Homo sapiens: one gene and its partners. The protein of the gene in region 4 interacts with the protein of the main gene of each other region in a pairwise test. Each region holds a gene or a part of one and is shown on either strand. Other genes may lie near its edges.

Region 1 (5,340 bases), on a different chromosome or scaffold from region 4:
CCCTCCTATATGGTTAGAGGAAATATAAAGAACATGCAATCACCCAAGCAAAGTGAGGACAAAGATGGTTTCTCTTCAGTGCTGAGTCTAGAGAGCAGAGAAGCAGGGCAAGCCGGAGCCAGATATGACTGGAGAAAGCAGCTGGCCACGTGTGAGGCCAGGTTACACAATCAGTTCAACTGCCCATCAGTGGGGGCTGTGACGACAGAACCCAAGACCCCTTCAGCTGAGGCTGAGCCCAGGCTAGGGCTAACAGCACCGCAATGATGCCAATACACTGCCCTTCATTCCACTGGCTCAGCCCACCCCAAGGTCAGGCAGGCAGATGACCTCCATGCCCCAGTAGCTTGACAATGTCTCTTCTAGAGGCAAGGCTGGTGCTGCTATTGCTTCCTACACGTGAGGGATACAAGTGCCATAGGAAAACGCCAATCCGAGAGTCCACAGCCCTCAGTAGGAGGCAACCACTGCCCAGGGAGCAGCAGACATGAGGCAAAGGAGACGCGGGGAGAGATTTAATTTACATAGCAGCCACTTGGGGTCCAGTCAGAGCTGGGGCAGTGGGGGAATCTATAACCCCAGAGGGTACCCCCCAGACCCCCACCCCCGGGAGACCAGTCCTCACCAACCCTTGGATGGGCTCCCAAGGTTGTGCAGAAGATGCTCCAGTCAAAAGGATAGAGACATTTGGGAATAAGGCTGTCCCCAAGTTGGGGGAAGTCCACGGCCTGGAGTGGTGGCCTACATGGTGGCCCAGGGGTCTGAGAGACCAGTCCATGTCCTGGGCGAGTCCTCAGCCTGGTGGCCCTAGAGGAAGCCTTCGCGGCGGAACTGTTCCTGGAGGAGGGCGCGGTACTGGTCAAATCCTCCTTCCACACGGGTGACGCCGCCTCCTTCGCATACCCACAACTCCCGGCACACCAGCCTGATAAAGCGCTCATCGTGGGACACCAGAATCACACCACCCTGAAAGACAGGAGGGCAGGAGGTGCTCAGGGGGACACAAGAGGCACCGAGGCCTGGGAGGAGTGGTCAGGGTGAAGGCACACTCACCCTGAAATTGTTGAGGGCACGGCCCAGAGCCTCAATGGTCTCCATGTCCAGGTGGTTTGTGGGTTCATCCAGAATGTAGAAGTTGGGGCTGGAAGGCAGAACCAGGAAGGTGGGCAGTGAAGGGGTGCGGTGAGAGAAAATAAAGCCTTCTGATACAGTTTTCTACTGGGCAAGAAGGGGAAATGGGAGGGGAAGAGCTCTGGAAAATGAGGCCTCACCAGGGCATAGTCATCTGAGCAAAGGCCACTCGGCTCTTCTGGCCCCCAGACAGGCTGGCAAGAGGACGCATGGCCAGTTCTCCGGAGATGCCATACCGACCCAGCTGGTGACGGTACTCCTCCTCAGGCCGCCCTGGAAAAGGACTCCCCAGATCAGGTGGCTTCTTGGCCCAACACCCTCCCTGTGCCCTCCAGCCACACCTCCAAGTCCCCATGTCCTTCCATCTAGGCTTGGCGGGGCTGCTCTGCACGCACCCCAAGGCAGGCCTAGCTGCCGGGGTCAGCCTCAGCCCTCTTCCCTACTCAAACTCTTCCCCCGACTCAAATCCCTAACTCACCAGGAAACTTGCGTGCCAGCAGTTCCACAGCACTGACGTTTAGGTCCAGCTGCTCCACATGGTGCTGGCTGAAATAGCCAATCTTCAGATTCCTGCAGGCAGAAGCCGAGGTGGAAAAACAGACAAAGGCAATGGCCACGAAGGAGCGCAGGCAGCATGGGTGCCTGCAAATGTGCTCATGGGGGCAGGGGTGCGGGTGGGCCTGACCTGTGAGCGTGTCTGATGCCCCGAACAGGTGCCAGGTCCCCCAAAAGCAGCTTCAGCATGGTAGACTTCCCAGCCCCATTCTCTCCAACCTTAAGAAACATGAAAATGTCATACAGTGTGTGCCAGAAAAATAAATACGGTATGTTCTCATTCATATGTGGGCACTAAAAAGTGTTGAGCACATAGAAGTAGAGAGCAGAGTTGTGGTTACTAGAGGCTGGGAAGGATAAGGGGGGAGGAGGGGAATTGAGAGAGGGGTTCGGGAGAGGTTGGTTAACTGAAACAAAATTGCAGTTAGATAGGAGGAATGGAGGAATAAGTTCTAGGGTTCTACAGCACTGCAGGGACGCTACAGTTCACAATGATAGACTGTACATTTTCAAAAAGCTAGAAGATTCTGAATGTTCCCAACATAAAGTGATAAATGTTTATGATGAATATGCTAATTACCCTGATTTGATCATTACACATTGTATACATGCATGGAAGTATCACTCTGTACCCCATAAATATGTACAATTATGTATCAATAAAAAGAGCACCGCTGTGTGTAACACAGAGGAGAAGGAAATTAGAAGGGGTCCCAGGCAGTCCCCAGTCCCGATGACTCCTTCAACAACCAAAAAAATATTTTTAAGGACTCTAGCCGGGCACGGTGGCTCAGGCCTGTATTCCCAGCACTTTGGGAGGCTGAGGCAGGCAGATCATTTGAGGTCAGGAGTTTGAGACCAGCCTGGCCAATATGGTAAAACCCCATCTCTACTAAAAATGCAAAAAATTAGCTGGGCATGGTGGCGGGTGCCTGTAATCTCAGCTACTTGTGGGGCTGAGGGAGAACTGTTTGAACCCGGGAGGCGAAAGCTGCGGTGAGCCAAGATTGTGCCATTGCACTCCAGCCGGGGCAACAGGGCAGGACTCTGTCTCCGAAAAAAAAAAAAAAGGAACTCTAACTCTACAGAAAAATGCATATACTAAGGTGAGCAATACTTGAGTATTTGCTAAGTGCTGGGGACTTACTTTTCCCAAGAACCAAGTGAGGTAGATGTCAGCGCCATCTTAAGAGTTAGGAAGCTGCTTGGTAACCAAGCTAGGAAATGGCATAGTCAAGATCCGAAGTCTGACCCTGAAGCCCATGCTCTCTCCTCAATGTCTCCAGGTTTAGAAAACTCAGAACCGAGACCAATAAGGTAAAGCACTGCTTTAAGTATTTTTAAGTATTTTTAAAACACTATACACTAGGCTCTTCCTCCCTGAAGAGCAGCGCTGTGCGGCCAGAGGACAGGGCTAGTGTAAGTCCTGCAAAATCCTTAGCCCGGGCCCTCACTCCTGTTCCACAGACCTCGTCCCTTTACAGCCTGAGGATCTGGGCCAATCCACACCACACACTTAGACAGGAGAGTCCCAGCTCGCAGCACAGAGAAACAGCAGCCTTACCACACAGATGCGAGACTCGAGATCAGCAGACACAGAGAGGCGACTGAAGATGACGTGCTTCGGATCGTAGTAGAAATCCACCTCATCTAGCTGCAGAATTGGCGGCGAGAACTTCTCAAACCCATCAGGGAACCTGCAGGAGGTAGGGGTGAGGATGTGGGGGCAGCTGGAAGCAAGCAATTCCCCACCAGCCCCACTGGCCCAGCACTTACTTCATTACGACCTCTGATTCCTTGTCCACAGGCTTCAGCTCAGGCCTGGGAGAAGAGATGAGGTAGACTAGATTTATTACTTAAAAAAATAACTTCCTACACGAGTAATATATGTTCAGAGAAAACTTAGAAAGGGCTTGTACTCCTACCACTCAGGTATCATTACTTTAGAGTCCATTCTTCTCATTTACTGTATGCTAAAAAATAGAATTAGGCTTTTTGTGACTTTTTATCCCCAGTTACTATATTGTGATATGTTTCCACGTCGCAAACATCTAAGCTTTATGATTTTAAGCTTCCTGCCAGCACTTATAGAAAGGGCACTTCAAAATTAAACTCCCAATGCACATTATCATTAGTTATTAAGGCAATGCAAATCAAAACCACAATGAGCTATCACTTCACAGCCACTAGGATGGCTAAAACTAAAAAAAAAAAAGTCAATAACAGTGCTGCCAAAGACATGGAGAAATTGGAACTCTCATCCCTTGTTGGTAGGAATGTAAAATGATGTTGTTGCTTTAGAAAACAGTTTGACAGTTCCTCAAAACATTAATTTGGAATTACCAGGTAACCCAGCAATTCTGCGCCTAGGTATACACCCAAGCAAGCTGAAAACATATGTCCACACAAAAATTTGTACACCAATGTTCACAGCAACATTATTCATAATAACCAAAATGGAAACAACCCAAATGGCCCCTCATGACTCAATAAACAAAATGCTGTATATCCACACAACAGAATATTATCCAGCCACGAAAAGAAATGAAGCTCTGACGCACGCTACAATATGGATGAGCCTCACACATGACGCCAGGTAAAAGACACCAGGCACAAAGGTCATATTGTATGATTCCATTTATATGAAATGCCCAGAATAAGCAGATACGTAGAAGCAGAAACAGAAAGTAAATTAGTGGTTGCCATGTGCTAGTCAAGATTAGCCCTCCAAGAACAGTGTGGAATACTCTGCTTCCCAGCAGAGGAGGAAGTCACAGTTGGCTTCTAGCGAAGGGGAGACCTAGAATGGTAGGGCAAGGGTGGCGTGCAAATGCGGAAGGAGACGAAGAGAACAGGAGTCAGGCCCTGGCCAAGGATGCTGTACTCACAGCTTCTCCAGCATCTTGAGTTTACTCTGCACTTGAGAGGCCCTGTTGGCATTGTAGCGAAACCGGTCAATGAAAACCTGCAGGTGGAGGAGTGTAGGCATTGGTCAAATTCCCCCACTATCCCCCACTCTGGAACCCCTGGGATGGGACCCCCAGCCCTGCCAGGCCCCACACCTGGATGTGCTGGCGATACTGCTGCTGCGCCTCATATTCACGCTGCTGGTTGAGCAGCCGCTCCTGCTTACTCTTGATGAAGGTCTCAAAGTCTCCCCGGTAACCATCTAGCCGCTGGCTGTGCAGGTGGATGATGTCTGTGGCGATGGCATTCAAGAAGTTGCGGTCGTGGGAGACGACTAGGATGGTGGAGGGCCACGTCTGAGGGGTCACAGGACAGCAGGCCCGGTTTGGGAGGGCAGTCAGTTCTCAGGCCCCCAGGTATCTTGGAGGCCGCCTTTCCCCAACACACTCCAGCACCCACAGGCACTCACCTGCAGGTAATTCTCCAGCCACAGGATGGCCCTGACATCCAGCATGTTTGTAGGTTCTGGAGAAGCAGGGGAGCACACACTTGGGATTGAAGGGCTGGAGAACTAGGAACTTGGATGCTACCACCCCTGCCCATCCTAAAGTCAGGGTGCCCCATTTCAAACTCACCATCTAACAGCAGAAGATCTGGCCTATGAAAAACAATACATGGCCTGAGGTTTTAGGTCAGCAACTCATGCCACCTCCCAAGAGCTAAGACCAATCTTCCATAGGGCTTCAT
Region 2 (7,033 bases), on a different chromosome or scaffold from region 4:
ACTGGTTTATATATTTATTATACTATACTATTTATTACTATTCAAGTTATTTTAGAGTGTACTCCTTCTACTTATTTAAAAAAACATTAATTATCTGACAGCCCCAGGCAGGTCCTTCAGGGGGTATTCCAGAAGAAGGCATTGTTATCATAGGAGATGACAGCTCCATGCCTGTTATTGCCCTTGAAGACCTTCTAGTGGGACAAGATGTGGAGGTAGAAAACAGTGATATTGATGATCCCAACCTTGTGTAGGCATCAGCTAATATGTGTGTTTGTGTCTTCGTTTTTTAAAAGAAGTTTAAAAAGTTTTAAAAACATTTTTTAATAGGAAGAAAGGTTACAGACTAAGGATATAAAGAAAATAGTTTTCTACAGCTGAATACATGTTTATGTTTGCAGCTATTACAAAAAAGTAAAAAGTTAAAAAAATTTTAAATGTTTATGAAGTTAAAATGTTACAGTAAGCTAAGGCTAATTTATTATTGAAGAAATAACATTTTAAAAAATAAATGTAGTGTAGTCTAAGTGCAGTGTTGATAAAGTCTACAGCAGTGTATGGTAATATCTTAGGTCTTCAAATTCACTCACCACTCACTCACTGACCCACCCAGAGCAACTTCCAGTCCTACAGTTCCATTCATGATAAGTGTCCTATTCAAGTGTACAATTTTTACCTTTTCTACTGTATTTTTACTGTACCTTTTCTATCGTTTCTACTGTATTTTTACTCTACCTTTTCTGTGTTTAGATGTGCTTAGATACAAATACATGAATACTTACCACTGTCTTACGAGGGAGGGAGGGAAAAGAAGGGAAAGGGAGAGAGAGAGAGAGAGAGAGAGAGAGAGAGAGAAGAGAGCCATCCAGAATAAAACAAAGCAAATATAGCCAAAATGACATTTGGGGAATGTAAGTAAAGGGTATATAAAAAATTTCTGTATTATTCTTGCAACTTTTCTGTAAGACTGAAATTATTTCAAAATAAAAAGTTTAACTAAAGAACTTATTTATGTAACCAAACACTGCCTGTTCCCAAAAACCTATTGAAATAAAAATAAATAGCTTAAAAACAAAATAGAAATAAAAAACAAGATCATTTCAGCTAGTGATAAGTACTAAAAGGAAAATAAAAAATGGTAATACTACAAAAAATACCTGGGATGGGGTGTGGGGACTGTAGCATAGTCCTTAAATTGGGAAGTCAGAGAAATTAACATCTGAACTAAGACCTAAACTAAAAATAGAAGCCAGCCATCTGAAGATTTGGGCAAAGAATTCCAGGCAAAGATATTCCACATGCTCTAAGGTGAAAATGCACTCGTGACTTCAAGATACAGGTAAAGACTAAATGCATGTGAAAAATTGTTCAATGTTATTCATAATTTAAAAATTAACTAAATAGTTGAGTCACTTCATTTCTTAAGAGATGGCAAAGAACGGGTCCAGGGGGTACCAATATCCAGTGGGTACCCTGCTTTTCCAGATGTCAATTTCCCAGCATAAGAAATTTTAAAACATTGACACCAAGCAATTCTTGTTTGAAAGTTTATCTTAAAGAAATAATCAGAAAGGCAAAGATTTATGAAAAAGGTTGTAATATTATTTATTTATAGCATAACACTGGAAACAACATAAACTGCCATTACTATAGGAATGCTGGAAGAAAACTATGATACCTCTATATGGGAGAATTCTATGCAGCCATTGGGCTTATGACATAAAGTTAGATAAAAATGTATACAAACAAAAAATGGTATCTATATCCATCTCTTATAAAGAAAATATTATCTAAACCAACACTGGGACAAGGAAATGCCAGTTACCTTGCCTTAAGATGACAGGATTATGATTTTTTTAATATTATGGAATTATGATTTTATACTAACCTTGCTAAGTACATTTTTTGAAATTTTTCTAATTTTTTTTACAATGGGCATGTTTTTCATAGACATTTATAACAGAAATATCCAAATATTGCCAAATATCAAAAACTCATAAATTAGAAAAACTGTAGCACGGTATCCTTAATTTACCAATAACTATACATTTTCTATCCACATTCAACTCTAAATACTAATCCAACTCTAAATACTGCAATTTCAGGATTCTTTTCCAAGGAATTTAATGATCCCAATTTTCTGTACTGAACTTATGAATGGAGTTCAAGGGTGCTGGGACCTTTGATAAACAGGAGATGTTTCTGTGGGAGGGAGAAGGCTGCAGAGGAGGAAATTTCTTTGAATTGGAAAAAATATGTTATTTTCTGTAGCTTGTTCTTTTAGAATTCATCCTCAGGTTTTCTAAAAGCTTCCCTGTCCTGTTCTAGGTAGGTTGTTTTGATAATATTTTTGATATTCAGTGAAAGGATGGGTAAGAATTATATTCACAATTTCAAGTGCCAGCTATAAAATTCAATTACTGCTCTATCAATGATGAAATCCATTCATTCATACATTTATTGAGAAAGGGTCTCATTCTGTCACCCAGGCTGGAGTGCAGTGGTGTGATCATAGCTCACTGCAACTCCCAACTCAAGCGAGGCTCAAGTGATCCAAGCAGCTGGGACTACAGGTGCACACCACCACTCCCAGCTAATTCTACTGTTTCATTTTTTTGTAGATGCAGCATTTCGCTATGTTGCCCAGGTTGGCCTTGAACTCCTGGCCTCAAGAGATCTTCCTGCCTCAACCTCCCAAAGCACTGGGATTATAGGCATAAGCAACTATGCCTGGCTTCAAATACATTTAGAATTATCAACATTAGAAATTTGATATAAATATATCATCTCTTTGTTTCTCTTCATAAGTGAGACAATGTAAATGTGTATATAACTGAAAATACTTTTTAAAAGAATCATTAAGGATGACTTGACTGTTTGTTGCTTGAAGAAGTGTGGTAATGCAGAAAGAACGGACTTTGGAATAAAATAAATCTAGGCCTCATTACTTTCTAGCTAAGTGCCTTAATTAAACTTGTTAACACCTTTGAACTGCTGTCTTCTCTTTGAAAATGGGGATACCTCACCTGCTACTGTGAGAATTAGAGCTAATGTAAGTTAAGTGCTTAACATATGCTTGAATCATCGCAAGTACCCGAAACCCAAAACAAACGAAAGACAAAACTTGACTGAATTTCCCCCTTTCTTCCAGCCCTGATTCCATGCTTCATATTTAAGTTCTACATCAGGATTTCTCAACCTTGGCATTATTGACATTTTGGGTTGGATAATCTGATTCTTAGCAGCATCTCTGGCTTTGTCTACTAGATATCAGTGGCGCTCCACTAATTGTGAAAATAAAAAATGTTTGCACACATTGCTAAATGTCCCCTGGGCTTCAAAAGTGCCCCAAGTTGATGACCACTAATCTATATAGACGACTAAAATATACAAACGGCATTTAATAGGGCCAACCAAAACAAGTGATCTCATTTTTCCCAGACTACTGAAAGCCAGTGATGGGAAGGGGAGAGGTAAATATTCCATTTTATATAAGGAATCTGTTTATTTCATGAAGGATTATTATGAAGGGGTTTAAAGCCCATGTCTTTGACTACTAAAATAATGTATTTTGACCATTATCTTAGTGGTCAAAGATTTGGATTTTAAAATTTGACTGTCTCCATTTAAATATAGGTTGGACAAGTTAACCTCTCCAAGCTTCAGTTTCTTCATCTGGGTTATTATGACTGTTACATGGATTAAATGCATAATACAGGTAAAGTGCTAAGCCCAGTGTCCGATATGTTGCAAGCACTCAATAAATGTTGGCTGTTCTTATTATAATCTAGGTCCTCTTTCCAATCCTGGGCTTTCAGGTCCCTCTTATTATGCCTTATCTCAGATTCCTCACTCTATACATATACTTATTTCTACTCCAAAGTCATCCTAACCCTTCTTTATTGAGGCACCTAACGCTGAGGGTGTAAGAAAACTGCCTGAGCTGGCAAGAGAAGACTTTGGTAATAAATTCTGAGAAATCTTCCCTTACCATGTCTGACTATCACTGACACATGATGTTTTTTGTACACTGGAATCAGGAAGAATACTATTTATGCAGAAAAAAGTGAGTAAAATTAATTACACTGAAGAACGAAAAGTACTAACTTGTGTTCCATTAGGGCACAACTATTGGTATAATTCATACATTAGTACATTGTAAAATAATAATAATAATAATAATAATGTTCCCAAATTGAATGAAATCAATTTGCAAATTTTTCTTTAAATTCAGGGTTTTCTTTCTTTCTCTCTCTCTTTCTTTTTATTAAGACAGGATCCCACTCTGTTCCAGGCTGCAGTATAGTGGTGTGATTATGACTCATTGCAGCCTCAACCTCCTGGGCTCAAGTGATCCTCCTCCTCAGCATCCCAAAGTGCTGAAATTACAAGTATGAGCCACCATGCCCAAACCCAGAGTATTTTTTTTTAATTAAAAGTAGAAATTTCCAAAAGGATTTACTAAATAATTTACAATTTATAAATGACCATCTATGATAATTATAAGCTACATAGATGAAGTTATCAAGTAACTTTTTAAAAATCAAAGATTAGGCATGAATCAGAAGTCCCGGAAAAGAAAAATGACCAAAAACCTACAAAATGGAGTCTCAGAAAAAAAGTCAGTGCTATGTGAAAAAATGATGCCTTTCTATGCAGAAGTGAATAACAATTTTTACTACAGCTCACCTGTAGTTTCTGAGTCAAAGAATCCCTCTGTTCTTGTAGTTCTCTGGCATTATCAATTTCTTGTTTTAACCTTTCTATTTCCTAGAAAAGACAGAGCAATGTCTTAACATTCAAACTATATCAAGGCAAGGGAAGGTCTTGTTTTTCCCTGAAATTATTGTTCTAGTTCTTAGAAAAAGATGATTTTAAAAACATTCCTTCATATTGACTTTTAGAGGGATGAATTCATCTTTATATGTATGTTGTCTAGAACAATAATCTTAAGCAACAGCAACAAGTCTAACTTGGTGCTTCTGGTACAGCAATGCTTAGAAATAACAACCTGAACATTTTAATGTTGCTTCAAGCTTTGTGGATATAATTCTTTCCTAAGATATTAAAGTTTTGACTGGAACCCAGAGAAACCAACAGCTTTTAAAATCCATTTAACCCCTAATGATTTTCTGTTGACTGTATAAATGCAACTCTCATCTGGAAGGCAACAGGTGGTATCTCGGTCTGACTGCCTCACCACAGTTCATAATAACAGAAATAAGGATAGAGAAAATATGAGCAAGCTTAATACCACTCAAGAAAAATTTCATCCTAAAAAAGAGGTCACAACCTGACTTTATTCCATAAAATACTTTTAAATTTGACATGGAATCTAATACTTTGTACAAACATGTTAGCTAGATTACAGATGAGTAAAAAGCAGCAAATACCTCTTCCTTCAGTTTCAGTGTCTCTTCCAGTTCTTGTATTGTCTGATTTAATTCTGTCTTATGAGTATGTACTGCATTTGCTTGGCTACTAACACATTCAAGTTCAGTCACCTAAAATTAAATGAGAACACAGATTAACTTAAATTTCAACTTTAAAGAGTTTCTTGCTAAATACATAGCCCCAAATAAGTGAATAGTATATTCTGAATAAATATATAAAAATTAATTTTGAGAAATATTAAGACACTCAAGGTAGAGTGAATAGATTCTTCAAAGATATAAAACTAGGAAAAGGGAAAAATAATCATTTACATGGCTTAGTCATAGAAAGGTTAGGATAACTTAAATTAAGTGATTAATGACAGTAGAGAATCCCTATAATGAAAGTCTTCTGTAAAAATTTCTTCCAAAAACATATTCAAGATCAGATATGACCATCTGTCCTTCATCTGTAGCCTTCAAATTCAATATGGGTTCTGAAAACTGGCCTTGCAGAAGTGAGAATTTTTTCAAATACATTTCCAACATGTAAGAGAATCTGGAAGAGAAAATAGGCTTAAAATACAACTTAAATCATTAGATACTGGAATGACTTTACATCAACAGTGTCTCTTACGGGTAAGATAAAATTTTGTTAGTCAATAAGAATTTACTGGGGGCCCAAAGAGTAATATAACTTTTAATGAGCACTTGGTATTTTTTGAGAGAACAGAGAGGGGCACTGTCCTTCAAGTTATACCATCTAAAACTAGAATCAGCAATAGACAGAAGTCAATATAAATACACACACACACACACACACACATGCACACACACACCCTATCACAGTTCTTTACATATATCATGTGCTCATAAAATTTTGGTTTACTAGAAGATAGTAAATTCTAGACTATTAAAGAAACAGAGTAAATCCCTCTCCCTGGCATTTTCCAAATATCAAATTACCCTCTACATTCTGTGATTCTCTCTCTTATATAATTTTCTTCCTTTCTTCTCATGTACTAATAGCCTCGTTACAAACCCTTATCATCCAGACCTGAACAAAACCAACAGCCTCCCAGTGGACTTAATTATAATCTTTTTTTTGTCTATTCTGCAAATTGCTAAGATTCATCTTTCATTCCTGTGATTCCACCATTCAAAGACTTTCAGCAGCTCATCTTTTTTACGGTATCAGATCTAAACGCTCAGATCCTCTGTATATTGGCCCCAACCTTCTCAACCATCCACACTGCCCAAGATACTCAGTGAGTACTTCCAACTAAAAGCAGGCAAATCTCCTTGTCCTAAGAACAAGTGATATTCATTCCCAACTTGTTGATTTAACTAGAATGTCCTCTCTTGCCTCTGAAAACCACTCGGACCTAACCGAACCCTTAACTCTTAGCTCAGCATGTGCTTTCTCCAGAAAGCCATTCCTATCTGCTCAAGTCTTCAAGGCTCTCCTCTGGTTCACAAAACCAAGCATCTGTTCAAAAATCTTGGGAATTATTTCACTTATTGTTTAATGTGTATTTGTTTTGTCTCATTATATAATAAATTCCTTAAAGGGAGTTCCAATTCTGATAATGATGAAATAGTTTTTATTGGAGTAACTTTCCTATAGGTAACAATTGCAAATTGTGGGCAAAATGTAAAAG
Region 3 (7,170 bases), on a different chromosome or scaffold from region 4:
CTGACTTTAGTGTACTTATATTACTTTATGCATTTGTCACACATTAATACCTAAAATTTAGTGAACATTTATTATGCTCTAGTCACTGTTGTAAGCAGTTCATATGTATAATTCATTCCATTCTCATAATACCATGAAGTAGGTACTGTTATTACCATCAACTTAAAGATGAGACACAGAGAAGGAAATTGTACAAGATCTGTCAGTAAGTGGAAGAACTGGGACTTAAACCCAGGCAATCTGGCTCCAGAGCCTGAACTCCTAATCTGTGCTATGGTGCCTGTTCAAGGAAAATCTTATTTCCCCTATTAAAATGTGAGTTCCTTGAGGGACAGAATGAAAAGAGGTTTTTGTTGGCTTTTGTTGTTGTTGGGGACGGAGAGGGGGGTGCGTATTTACATCCTCCACACTTAGGACAGTTCCTGAGACACAGCAGACATTTGCCAGTATTTGTTGAGCTGAACTGGCCTCAAATACTCAACCAAGGCGTCTGGGCTGGGCGTGGTGGCTCACGCCTATAATCCCCGAATTTTGGGAGGCTGGGGTGAGAGGATCACTTGAGCCCAGGTGTTCAAGACCAGCCTGGGCAATACAGGGAGACCCCGTCTCTTTTAAATTAAATTAACAACAAAAAAAAGCCAGGCGTGGTGGTATGCGCCTGTAATTGCAGCTACTCAGGAGGCTAAGGTGAGGGGAACCCTTGGGCCCAGGAGGTCAAGGCTGCAGTGAGCTGTAATCGTGCTACAATACTCCAGTCTGGGCAACAGAGCGAGACTCTGTCTAGAAAAAAAAAAAAAAAGAGAGAGAGAAAGAGAGAGAGTCTGGGTTGTTCTTCCTATAGGTCAAGGATCACCAAATTATTCTGTAAAGGGCCAGATAGCAAATATTTTAGGCTTTGCGGGCCATAAGGTCTCTGTCACAATTACTCATCTCTGCCCTTCCTGTGCAAAAGCAGCTACAATATGTAAACAAATGAGCATGGCTGTATTCCAAGAAAAGTTTATTTACGAAAACAGTGAGCCAACTGGCCCATGTGCTCCAGTTTGCTGACCCCTATTATACAGATAATAGGAATATATTAAAGGTTTCTAAGCAGAGAAATTGAGTTTTTAGATTAACTGTGATGGCAATGTAACCAGAAAGAGACCATCTAGGAGTTTCCATATTGAAACCAAAGTCATGGCCTCCTTTATCTTTCTATAATCATTCTAAAACAGTGTTGTCCAATGGAGATACAATGTAAGCCACAAATGTGAGCCAGGTATGTAATTTTAATTTTTTTCTTTTTCTTTTTTTTTTTTCAGAGACAGGATCTCGCTCTATCACCCAGGCTGGAGTACAGTGGCACAAATAGTAGCTCACTGTAACCTCAAGCTTAGGCTCAAGCAATCCTCCTGTCTTGGCCTCCTAAAGTGCTGGGACTACGGGTGTGAGCCACCATACCTAGCCTACTTTTAAATTTTCTAGAAGTCACATTTTAAAAAGACTTTTAAAAGCAGGTGAAATTAATTTTAATAATACATTGTATTTAACCCAATATACCCAAAAATATTGCCATTTAACACATAATATAAAAATTGACATATTTTACATTCTTTTTTCATAGTAAGTCTTAAAAATCCAACGTGCATTTTCATATGTAAAGCACAACAATTCAGATAAGCCCCATTTCAAATGTCTAATAACCACATGTGGCTAGTGGCTACCATACTGGACAGCATTAAAAGAATGATCAACTAAACCTACAGATCTCCATATGCAGCTGCTGGTTTTGGGACCATCTCCTTGACCGGCTTGCCATTGATTTTTGACCGAATTCTGAACTATATATACTACAGTTTGACATTACTGGCAACTCAATAAGGCAATGTCTTCATTTTTTATGTTACATTTGTACACCACTTAGTTTTCACATACGATTTCACACCTGATCCTCATTACAAACACGTGAATACGCAAAAGATTTCACACCTGATCCTCATTACAAACACGTGAATACGCATGTTATATCAGTTTTACAAATGAGGAAAGAACGTTCAGAGAAAAAAAGAGACAACCATTGAGTGTTAGAACTGAGAAAAAAAAAGTAAGTCTCCTGACCTCTGGTCAAATCTATTTACGCCCCAATAATACCACCTCCTTAATCAAAGTTGCACTTCTCTGTGCGACTGGTCTTTATTTCCTCCAGTGATTGTAAACTCCATGAAGAAAAGGACTGTTTTTCCTGACCACTGTATTCCCAGTGCCCAGTAAGGTGTTTTACAAGGAGGCAATATTTATTGAATGAATTAATGACGTTTCTGCTTTTCTCATTTTTAGTCGGTTAAATGTAATTTACTTTTTTAAAGCAACTGATGTGAAGAGCCAAAGTACGCCACCAAATTGGTAGGTTTTTAAAAGTTGAACTTTACTGCCAACATACTTCAAAAGAGAACGAGGGGGAAAGGCTCGGAGCCAAGGCCTGAGTTCTAGTCCTGACCCTGCCATGAACTGGCTGTGAGCCCTCACGTAAATTTTTTTAACTTCTCTGGGCCAGAGTTCTTATCTGTCAAAAGGGAAGAGTAGGGCTATAATCTTCACGATTCCGTGCACAGGTAGGGTTTTTGACATTAACTTGATGTGAGCCGGCTTCCTAACTCCTCACACCCTTCCTCCAGTCCCCTCTGCAACGGCCGACTTGGTGAGAGAGGTAACCACCGGGCCCTCTGGGTTCCCTATCCGCTTCCTAGGGGGGCCGACTCGACACCTAGGTGCAAGGTGGATCCCACGGGCCAGAACCGCCATCTTTCCCCATTGGCCTGACCCCAACCGCCACCCGCGGGCACTGGATGACGCGGACCTTACCTCTCCTCACAGTCTTTGCATTTCACCTGCAACGGGACTAGTTGGTGGAACAGCACTTGGCTCATGTTGGCTCGCTGCCTCGGCTGGTGTGCAGAAAAGCCCAACAGGCCCGGCCCTCGGGATTAGCCTGAGAGGTCCGGGTCCTGATAAAGTTTGAGTTTGGCGCTCGGCTTCTGCGGAGGAGGCGGGGAGGGAGAAACGAGGGGAAGGCGTAAGAGACTTGGCCCTCGCCAGCCACCATCGGATTCTTCCGGTTCTGCGGAGGATAAAGGGAAGACGGTTGTGGTAGTTCCGGGTATTAACCTGTGTGGCGCGGGGGCTGAGGCAGCCATGTTTGTTAAGGGAAGGAGACCCGAAGGAAGCTTCTAACTTTTCTTCTGGTTGCCGGATGCTGGACACCGGAAGCGAGCCCTAGAATTATGGCGACCTCCGCGACGTCGCCGCACGCGCCTGGTTTTCCAGCTGAGGGTAGATGCGGTTACTATGTGGAAAAGAAGAAACGGTTCTGCAGGATGGTGGTGGCCGCAGGGAAAAGATTTTGTGGTGAACACGCTGGAGCCGCGGAGGTGTGGTATCGCCCTACTCTCTCAAGAGTCGGAAATAAGTATCCTGGTCCTGTCGGTGCTGGAACCCGGCCCCTCCCCTCTTTGACAGCTTTCTGCTTGTGTCCCCTGGATTCTCCAGCTTTCACTTTAATAAACCCAGTTTTGCCCTCCTTGCGGAGCGATTATGAGTTCTAGTGATGAGAAATTTTTTATTTTTCTAAGTAAAGCGCCAGCAGTGACCCATTTATTTTGATCTATTTATCTCGATCTTAACTCATGGTAATGCTAGGTTTTAATTTTTACCCCAAGCTACCGCTCCGTCTTCCTGCTGGAAAGTGGTAGTTTAGAAAAAGTAGTGATTGAAGTCCCAAAGGTTTCACTAGTTGTGTTCTAATTGTTATTTCATGAAAGAGAAGCACTTCTCGTGAATGCGGTTGGAAGAAACTTTCTTTTAAAAATTTAGACTTGAGGCCCGGCGCGGTGGCTCACGCCTGTAATCCCAGCACTTTGGGAGGCCGAGGCGGGCGGATCACTTGAGGTCAGGAGCTCGAGACCAGCCTGGCCAACATGATGAAACCCTCTCTCTACTAAAAATAAGAAAATCAGCCGTGGCGCGAGCTACTAAAATTAAGAAAATCGTGGTGGTGCGAGCCTGTAACCCCAGCTACTCGGGAGGCTGAGGCAGGAGAATCGCTTGAACCCAGGAGGTGGAGGTGGCAATAATCCAAGATCACACCACTGCATTCCAGCCTGGGTGACAGCCAGACTGAATCTCAAAAAAGAAAAAAAAATTTTTTTCGACTTACAGTTTTTAAGAATGCAACTTTGCTGGAATGGGAAGGAAAGATTTTTAAATATATACGAATTGACCTTTTACAATTGAGAACAAAGCATACAATTTTGTTTGATAATTATGCATATAAATGTACTATCAAACACTTTATATTTGTATATATGTATATTACTTTAGGATATATATGAGATGGGAAAATAAAAACCAGAGGAGCAAAATGCTCATAGGAAGAGAGCATGTCCTTATAGTTCCACAGAACTATAAAGAATAAACCAAAGCGATCAGCATCAGATTTCATGCTTCTGAATGTTCAGTATTATTTGCATTATTTTATTTCTTAAGGAATTTATTCTTCTAGACAATATCCAGTGCAGATCAGTCCCCTGACCCCCTTCATCTGCCACTCTCCATCATAGTTGTAGTCTACTTCCTATTTTGTTTTGACTGGCATTTACCAAAAGTGAAGCATACTGAAACAAGGACATTCTTGTTTTGGAATATGGGAGACGTGATTTGTTGTGGGAACTCTGAATTATGCCCATAGTCTATTGACTGGTTTTGAGGGGACTGGCAAACATCCCTTGTTGAAGAATGAGAGTTATGATAGGAGAAGGATTTAGACTCCACCTTATCCAGATATATGGAAGGTGAAAACAAATAGTGATGATAGTAGAATATGAATAAATCCTTACAAGCTGATTAGTATTCCTATAGAGGAACGACATATTGTCATTAGACACTTGAAGAGAGACCGCAAAACATCAAGTGGAAACACTTTTATTGACTACTATCTCGTTTTAAATTGTGGCTATCCTCCTGAATCTGTAATTTATGATGTAACTGGATGTTGTGTTTCCATCTTTTTTTCTAAGTGTCATATATAGCTGTGATGACACCACTCATTTTTACCCAGTGGTTCTCGACTGGGACTGATTTTGCCTCCAGTGAACACTTGGCAAAATGAAGACATTTTGGTTGTCAAACTGAGGAGTATCACTGACATCTAATGGATAGAGACCAGAAATGCTGCTAAACCTCCTACAAATCACAGGACAGCCCCCTGCACTCACCCCCTCAAAAGAATTACCTGCCCAAAACGTCAATAGTGCCAAGATTGAGAATTCCTGTTTCTAAATTCAACTAATAAATTTTAAATGTGCTTTTTTTTTCCTATGCTACAGTTAGGCTCTGGGGGTTAGAATAGTCTTTTACATGGAGGTTAGGATTTAAAGTCAGCAATAAGGAAGAAATTATATACAGTATTTTCTTTTTCTTCTATTGAATATATAGTATTTTCAAAAAAAAAATTTCTTAGCTTTCCCATGAAATTCAGTGTGAATAGCTTCATGGACATGCTGAGAGGCACATTCGAACAGAAATAAATTTTTAAAAGAATAATAATAGCAGACACTTAGTCACCACTTACTCTATGTACAGCACTGGGCTAGGCAGTTTTGTTTTGTTAACTATTAGCTCACTTAATGTGTTCAAACCTTAGAAGGTAAGACATATTTTTGTTCTCATCTTTCAGATGAGGCAGTAAGCCTACCTAACTAAGGTCATAGGGATCGTAGCTGGTAGGTAGAGCTGGGTATCATACCTAGGCAGTCTGGCTGGCCTGTGTTCTTAACTGTTATATGACCCCTATTTATACAGATTCATGTGGAATATTGGGTAGAATTGCCAACATTATCAATTTTCCTTTCTTTTTTCCCAGTTCATATAGTCATGTGCCACATAATGACATTTCAGTCAACAACAGACCGCATATATGATGGTGGTCCCATAAGGTTATAATACTGTATTTTTACTGTACCTTTTCTATGTTTAGATATGTTTAGATACACAAATACTTACATTGTGTTACAATTGCCTACAGTATTTAGTATGGTAACATGCTGTACAGGTTTACAGCCTAGTAGCAATAGGCTATACTATATAGGCTAGATGTACAGTAGGCTATACTATCTAGGTTTGTGTTACTATACTGTATGATGTTCTCCCAATGACAAAATCACCTAAAGATATATTTCTCAGAATGTATTCCCAGTCATTAAGTGATGTAACTTAGGAATGAGTAGGATGTAACTGATAGTAAAAAGTTGCAAAGCCAGTAAAATATGGCACATCCAAATGGTTAAAATGCCATGTTCCATTGTTTCTAAGAAACTTTATTTTTACATTTTAACATTCTAAAATCAGGATACATCTTAAAATCCATATGTCAATGGGCAGCATTTTCCAAAAAATGATTAGTATGTGAGGCAATACATGTTAATTAGCTTGATTTAGCCATTCCACAATGTATACATATTTGAAAACATTATGTTGTATTAAAACCATACATAAATAATAGTGTATATTATTTTTATTGCCATAAAAATCACAATTACTTTTGTACAAACCTAATATGTGATAAATATATACAACTATTTGTCAATTAACATGAAATAGGCAGCATTTTTTTCTTTCTTGGTTGTGCATAAAATAGTCATACATATAATAGTTGATGCTATCTTAGATTTCAGACACCATATGTAGGCCTTCTCTATACCCTGTTTGAAGCTATAGACCCTTGTTTGTCCAAAGCAGTATTTGTTCATATGTATTTAAGCCAGTACACTGGAGAGTTTTTGTTAAACCCTTGGGACCTGATTTTGCCAACTTTTCATTATGTCCTTGTAAGGTTTCCTTACCTTGTTTTGAGATTACAGAGACACTGAAGTTATATCTGGTATCTGTAAGCAATAAACTTGATATTTTATTTAAATAAATGTATCTCTTAATTTATTAGGAAGAAGATGCTCGGAAAAGAATCCTGTGTCCTTTAGATCCAAAACAGTAAGTGTGGATCAGATACGGGTTTTTTTTTGTGCTGGAAACAGTAATTGGCACAAGTCTCATTTGAAATAATTTTCTCTTTAAATTTAGCACAGTATATGAAGATCAACTAGCAAAGCATTTGAAAAAATGTAACTCAAGAGAGAA
Region 4 (7,033 bases):
CTTATATTAATCCCAGTATTTCCTGTTTTACCATGATAATAAATTCTTCCTGTAGTAAAATAAAGGAAAATAATCATTACTCTTGGTTTTCCATTTTTTCATTCTTTTTTAGAGCAGTATCTTCAAAAAAGATTATTTTTAAATTTTAATAATATATTTAGTAATTTTATTGTGATATAATTAGATGATTTTATTAAACATACTTTTCTATTTTTATTATAGATCTAAACTTAGTCTTTTTCAATCAAGAATCAGTTTACAGAAGGCAAGTGTAAAGGTAAGTTTTCAATAAGTGTATTTCACAACTGAGAAACCTCTTAGCTTGTAAAACAGAGAATTGGATCTTTGAGGGTGGAGGTGGATTATTTCTACCTTAGAGAAGCATTTTAAAGTCACTGACTCAGGGAGGAACTTTCCCTCCCAGTTCATGGGGGTTTTGCACCCAGCTGTCAACACCTTGGACACACTTGCTTCTCAAGACTGCATTAGGGATAAGTTTCTGGACCTTACCTGCTTAGGCAGCCTGTTGTCTTTAGCTCTTAGTCCAAGAGACTTAATCCGGGGGCTTTGGAAAGCTCTACAAAATCTATTTCGTTTAGATTTAGACCCCTGAGTGATATTCTGGGCCAGATGTGAGTGAGTTTTTCCTTCGGAAACTTCACACTGTGGAATGCCTGATTAAGTAAGCTTAGAGACCTGGCTGTGGCTGCCAGGCTTCAAACTAGCATGCAGTTCATCTGGCACATTAGGAGTGCTGATTTTTAAAAAACTGTTTTCTAACTCCACTAGATTTTACCCATACCTTTGAAGATAAGGTACTTATTTCAGAACCTTTATTTAGTCATTTGAATAAATGGGCAAAATATTTTTAAGTTATCTACAAAGCTTTAGAAGTATGTTAAGCAAATATTTGAAAATGCTCCTGCCCTGTATAACAGTTCTAGTCACTGTTTCATTCCTTAGTAGTGATGAATAATTTTTATATACGTATAAATGTTTTCCGCACGTGGTTACCTTTATTCTTGTTGGGGAGCCATTAATTGCAAACTAAGAGTAGGATTCCTATGTGTTTTGCAGTACAATATCAGTTTGCACTGATTATTTTATTTTGCTATGTTTTAGTTAAAAGCCCGGCGATCTGAGTGTAATTCCAAAGCTACCCACGCAAGGAATGATTATCTTCTTACCCTAGCGGCAGCAAATGCACATCAGGATCGCTACTATCAAACAGATTTAGTTAACATTATGAAGGTAATACAGCTTTCATATCTATGGTAATTTTACTTCATTGAAAACAAAAACAACTTAAGTTGGGTGTTGGGTTTATGGGATTGAATCTATAAAAGAGTAGCCAGGCTATGTTGCATCTCATTGGAATATACTTGTTATTGTTTGGATAGCATCTGTTTCAGATAATTTGGAATTAATTTTTAGTTAAGAAAATGTTTACAGACAAGTCACAGTAAAGGATTATATTATTCCCTAGGTGCGGCAAACATTTGTTATCTAGTGGTTATTGATGTAGAAGATACAAGAGTGATGTAAGAAATAAAATAATGACTCAAACTGGGAAACTACTTCTGAGCTATTTTATGAGACTCATGTCATGGTTTCAATAAATTATTGAAGCTAGGCAGAATCTTCAGGTATCTTCTGAATCATCGGAGAAAGACATTTTAGCATAATTTTTGTTAGATTGTATCTGTATTTTTTGAAAAATTTTTATAAGAAAAGTTTTATGCAAAAGAATATTTCTATTAAAAATATATTTTTATAGTGTATCTCTTAGCCTGAATTTTTTATTAACTACAATTTTGGCCACAACTATGTCTAATGATAATTATGAAGCTTTTTTTAATTTTAATTTTTTAGAGACAAGGTCTCGCTCTGTTGTCCAGGCTAGAGTGCAGTGATGATCACGGCTCACTGCAGCCTTGAACTGCCAGGCTCAAGCAATCCTCCCGCCTCATCCTCCTGAGTAGCTGGGATCCAGGTGCATGCTACCATGCCTGGCACCTTTCTTTTATTTATTTTTTTTTTTTTTTGAGACGGAGTCTCGCTCTGTCGCCCAGGCTGGAGTGCAGTGGCGGGATCTCGGCTCACTGCAAGCTCCGCCTCCCGGGTTCACGCCATTCTCCTGCCTCAGCCTCCCAAGTAGCTGGGACTACAGGCGCCCGCCACTACGCCCAGCTAATTTTTTGTATTTTTAGTAGAGACGGGGTTTCACCGTTTTAGCCGGGATGGTCTCGATCTCCTGACCTCGTGATCCGCCCGCCTCAGCCTCCCAAAGTGCTGGGATTACAGGCATGAGCCACCGCGCCCGGCCCCTTTCTTTTATTTTTAGAAACAAGAGTCTTGCTATGTTGACCAGGCTGGCCTCAAACTCCTGGCTTCAAGTGATCCTCCCTCCTAAGCTTCCCAAAATGCTGGGATTACAGGTGTGAGCCATTGTGCTTGGCTATTTTTTATTTCTAAAAAAACTTAGATTTTTAAAAAATTTCATTACGTTTATCCTGAATTTATGGGTAAAATTGCACATTACTATTTGATGATTTTGAGCTGCGTACGGGACAAACAAAAGAGTATGTTCAGTAGCTATATGAAGATGTCTGTCCTCTGGGTATTACTCTGAAATGCAGATAGATTAGATTACAGTTTGTGTACCCAAACTTGATCTAGCATTTCCCTGTTTATACCACCTATGATGTGTCTTTAACTTTCACTGAAATAAAGAGAAGATAGTAGAGGAAAAGGAAACCTTTGTAATCTGTTGCCAGGTTTCTCCCTTGTTGCTGACAGGCAAGCTCTGCTTTGGATTGTATCTGTCATTCTTTCCTGTTTTCCCAAAACCCAAACATTTTATCATTTTGTTTTTTCTTATTTTCAACCCATCCCCCTCAAATGTATTGTTCTTAATGACTAACAAACACACACATTGCTGTAGTCGAATTGCTTAATTTACAAATCAGCAATTGTGAATGGGGATGCAGCCAGAGCAGGTGCTCTTTTTTCTGCAGTAGCTCTGGAAAAGAGGTCAACTCTGGCCAGAAACTGCAAGTTCTTTCCTTGAAAGTAGAGATGGGACAGTTCTCGGGACCTTCAGGCAAAAACAAGAGTGTTGAAGGGAGTCAAACTGGACTAAGAAGTATCCTATTGCAAAAACGTTTTTTCTTTCCTTTTTGTTCACTGCCTGAAATCCCCTTTTCCTAGCTTCTGTTGTGACTTCTGCTTATTAGAATACAGGTTAGAAAATATAGAGACAAGGAACTGTTTTGTCATCTCAGATGAAAACTCTGCATATATTTTCCATAAAGTATTAGACCTAGAGGTTTAGGTGTTTTAGTATATATAGTTTTTGAGACAGGGTCTCGCTCTGTCATAACAGGCTAGAGTGCAGTGGCTTGAACATGGCTCACTGCAACCTGAACCTCCTGGTCTCAAGGGATCCTCTTGCCTCAGCCTCCCATGTAGCTAGGACCACAGGTGCCTGCCACCATACCCAGCTAATTTCTTAATTTTTATTTTCGCAGAGGCGTGGTCTCACTTTGTTGCCCAGGCTATTCTTTAACTCCTGGGCTTAAGAGATCCTCCCACCTCAGCCTCCCAAAATGCTGGGATTATAGGGGTGAGCTACTGGGCCTGGCTGGTTTTAGTATCGTATTAGGTATTACATAGTGCTTCAGACTTACAAGGACCAACAGTTTCAAAGAACACATTTACTAAAGATGATTTTTAGCACAGCTCGCACTTAAGGTTGTAATTCACTATATTCTATATATGTCTACTATTATATCAAAGCTGTATATTTTTCCCTATGAATATTTTTAAATGAACATTATATTAACTTAAGCAACAGCAAAAATAAAATCCTATTTTTTTTCTATTGGATCTACAGCTAAAAAAGATGGCCTTCAATAAACCAGAGAAAGTACATTCTTATTTGGGGGATCTGCTCTCTGCCTAAAGCAAAGAGGAAGTTAAAGGGCCTGGCCAGCTCACAGATTAATATATGTTCTCGAACTTACTTTGAAGTCTTTATGCATATATTTGATCAGCATTGGGTAGGTCATGCTTTGGAGTATTCATTTAATGAAACATTGTGGGGTACTAAACTGATTAAAAATAGAGGCAGGGGTTGGTCCCTCCTGCCCCTTAAAAATGAGAAAACATACTTTCAGTTTTCATGTACTGTACATTAACTCATTTTCTTCCTCATGCTAATTCTATAGTCTGCAGTACAGGAAAACTCCTATCAATCATGCTGTTAGCTACTTAGTAAATTTCCACCATTGAATTGTCAGTGGCCCTTAGATGCCTTTCTTGAAAATATCTGTTTTTCTGAATTAATGTTAAGGAAATATCTATTTTTCTGAATTAATGTTAAGGTGATAATGCCCTATATGGGTAGCTTAAAAGCAGGGTATTTGATTTGTTGGTTTAATCATACACATTTAAGAGCCTCTTACAGCATGCTAACTACTGAGTTAGGCTTTGGGAAGAGACAGATGAGTAAGACATACTACTTATCCTCAAAGAGCTCAATATGGTAGAAGAGAGTGAGATGTATATATATACATACACATATATATACACACACATATATACATATATATACACATACATATATATACATACATACATTATATATATATATATATATATACACACACACACATACACATACATATATACATGATTGCAAATTAGAGTGATGGAAATCACTTACTGCTGGAGGACTGTGGTTAGTAATAATAATAGCTATCTTTTTTATTGCTTAATATTGCCTTGGCATTATCCTAACCATTTAATACATGTTATCCTTTCTCATTTTCTTTGTTATCCTCGTTAAAGTTCATAGCTCATTATTTAAATAATACTCTAACTTATATTCTTATCTTTGCCCTTCTTCAAATGAAATGAAATTGTAACTCTGATGAGCCCCCATAACTGGATAATCTGTATCTAAGCAGCCAAGTACTGCTGAAGAAAAGTTTCGACGGAGCAGATTCATGATCATAAATTAATAGAGAAACCAGTGCAGCAGTTTCAACACTGCTTAGATGGCCTACTGTCTTTTCCCTAGTTAACTTTTCCTACTATTTTTAACAGTTATTTCAACTTTTCCCCCCTCTTCAAACCTCAAACTTACCCCTTCTCTTTTATGCTTAGCAAGTGGGTTTTCTTCCTAATTTACAGAGACGATAGAAACCGTTGGAAGACAGCTTCAATATTGTCCACTTCATCTGTGTTGAAGACTCTTCCAGAGTCTCAGTAGCAGTTGTTCCTGTCTAAAGGTGATCTTTTCACCTCAGCTTTGGATTATATCTCATCCCCTCCTGCCTTCTTAGGGAACAAAACAATTATTTTATGTTCTTTTCGTATTTCCTGGACATTCTGTTCTTACATTAGCAGTTATCTTGGTGATAACAACCCTCATTATGACTGTCTTTTGAGTTACATTCTTCTAATCTGGACTAGTTGCCCTCTGTGTCAGATGCAAGTATTTATCCTGAGATCTTCCTATATGTCTTTGTTGTGTTAGATCTCCAGTTTTCTTTATGATATGTCTTATTTTTTTCTTGATTTATACTGTCCTTTGGTAGAGCACATCCTCCAGTACCTTCTTGCGAAAGTGGGCATGGGAAGTAAGTTTTTTGAGATACTATGTTTATGAAAATGGCATATTATTTGCTTGTACTTGGATATAGAATTAAAGGTTGAAAACTCTTTCATTGAAACATTGGAGTCCATACCTCATTGTTTTCTTCTTTACTGTGTAAGTATTGAGAATCCAAAGCCATCCTAGTTCTTGATTATTTGTATCTGATCTAATTGTTTGTTTTTTCTTTTTTTAGAAGTTTATGGAATATTCTCAGTGTACCCTTTGATTTCTTGGATTAATTCTTCCCTTTTGTTTTCTCTTTCTGGAACTTCCCATTATTAAGATATGATATCTCCTAGCTTGCTTCTTTAAATTTCATTTCTTTCTTATTTTCCATCTTTGTCATTATGTTGTACTTTTTGGGAGACTTCTTCAACTTTACAGTTTCTTTTATTGGACTTTTAATTTTTTCATAGTAGTTTTAATGTATGAGAGTTCTGTTTTCTCCACATCCTTACCAGCATTTTTTATTGCCTGTTGTATTAGTTCGTTTTCACACTGCTTTAAAGAACTACCTGTGGCCGGGCATGGTGACTTACACCCATAATCCCAGCACCTTGGGAGGCCGAGGTGGGCAGATCACCTGAGGTCAGGAGTTTGAGACCAGCCTGCCAACATGGTGAAAATCCATCTCTACTAAAAATACAAAAAATTAGCTGTGTGTGGAGGCATGCACTTGTAGTCCCAGCTACTCAGGGAGGCTGAGGCACGAGAATCGCTTGAACCTGAGAGGTGGAGGTTGCAGTGAGCTGAGATCGCACCACTGCACTCCAGCCTGGGTGACAGAGTGAGACTTCATCTCAAAAAAAAAAAAAAAAAAAAGAAAGAGCTACCTGAGACTGGGTAATTTATGAAGAAGAAAGGGTTAATTGACTCAGTTCCGCATGGCTGGGGAGGCCTCAGGAAACTTACAATCATGGTAGAAGGCAAAGGAGAATCAAGTACCTTCTTGACATGGGGGTAGGAGAGAGGAAGCGAAGGGGGAAGTGCCACTTTTAAACCATCAGATATCGTGAGAACTCAGTCACAATCATGAGAACAGCATCAGGGAAATCGCTCCTATAATCCAGTCACCTCCCACAGGGACCCTCCCCCGATATATGGGGATTACAATTTGAGATGATGAGATTTGAGTGGGGACACAGAGCCAAACATATCACCTGTCTTTTGGATAAAAGTCATTTGACCTGGGATGACATGCTATCTAATTATAGTTTTGATTTATGTTTCTCTGATGGTCAATGATATTGAGCACCTTTTTATATGCCTGCTTGCCATTTATATGACTTTTTTTGAGAAATGTCTATTCAGATTTTTTGCTCATTTTTATTTTTTATTTTTATGTATTTATTTATTTTTCTTTTTTTATTA

What was found.
Region 1: the proteins of FCHSD2 (region 4) and ABCF3 interact in binary tests that used the Homo sapiens proteins (3 or more experiments, as listed by UniProt).
Region 2: the proteins of FCHSD2 (region 4) and HOMER1 interact in binary tests that used the Homo sapiens proteins (3 or more experiments, as listed by UniProt).
Region 3: the proteins of FCHSD2 (region 4) and SASS6 interact in binary tests that used the Homo sapiens proteins (3 or more experiments, as listed by UniProt).

The regions. Positions count from the first base shown.
Region 1 is NC_000003.12:184,189,166-184,194,505, reverse strand, and holds the end of ABCF3 (ATP-binding cassette sub-family F member 3), read right to left. Parts: intron 5,252-5,340; coding exon 5,229-5,251; intron 5,119-5,228; coding exon 5,063-5,118; intron 4,950-5,062; coding exon 4,749-4,949; intron 4,652-4,748; coding exon 4,575-4,651; intron 3,508-4,574; coding exon 3,463-3,507; intron 3,384-3,462; coding exon 3,251-3,383; intron 1,906-3,250; coding exon 1,817-1,905; intron 1,702-1,816; coding exon 1,610-1,701; intron 1,405-1,609; coding exon 1,272-1,404; intron 1,142-1,271; coding exon 1,054-1,141; intron 967-1,053; coding exon 808-966; 3' UTR 501-807; downstream 1-500.
Region 2 is NC_000005.10:79,392,134-79,399,166, forward strand, and holds part of HOMER1 (homer protein homolog 1), read right to left. Parts: intron 5,505-7,033; coding exon 5,394-5,504; intron 4,771-5,393; coding exon 4,690-4,770; intron 1-4,689. UniProt on the Homo sapiens protein: Postsynaptic density scaffolding protein. Binds and cross-links cytoplasmic regions of GRM1, GRM5, ITPR1, DNM3, RYR1, RYR2, SHANK1 and SHANK3.
Region 3 is NC_000001.11:100,129,906-100,137,075, forward strand, and holds the start of SASS6 (spindle assembly abnormal protein 6 homolog), read right to left. Parts: upstream 3,026-7,170; 5' UTR 2,910-3,025; coding exon 2,845-2,909; intron 1-2,844. Other genes in the region: TRMT13 (tRNA:m(4)X modification enzyme TRM13 homolog), read left to right, coding at 3,264-3,410, 6,977-7,023, 7,114-7,170.
Region 4 is NC_000011.10:72,978,306-72,985,338, reverse strand, and holds part of FCHSD2 (F-BAR and double SH3 domains protein 2), read left to right. Parts: intron 1-222; coding exon 223-277; intron 278-1,122; coding exon 1,123-1,251; intron 1,252-7,033. UniProt on the Homo sapiens protein: Adapter protein that plays a role in endocytosis via clathrin-coated pits. Contributes to the internalization of cell surface receptors, such as integrin ITGB1 and transferrin receptor.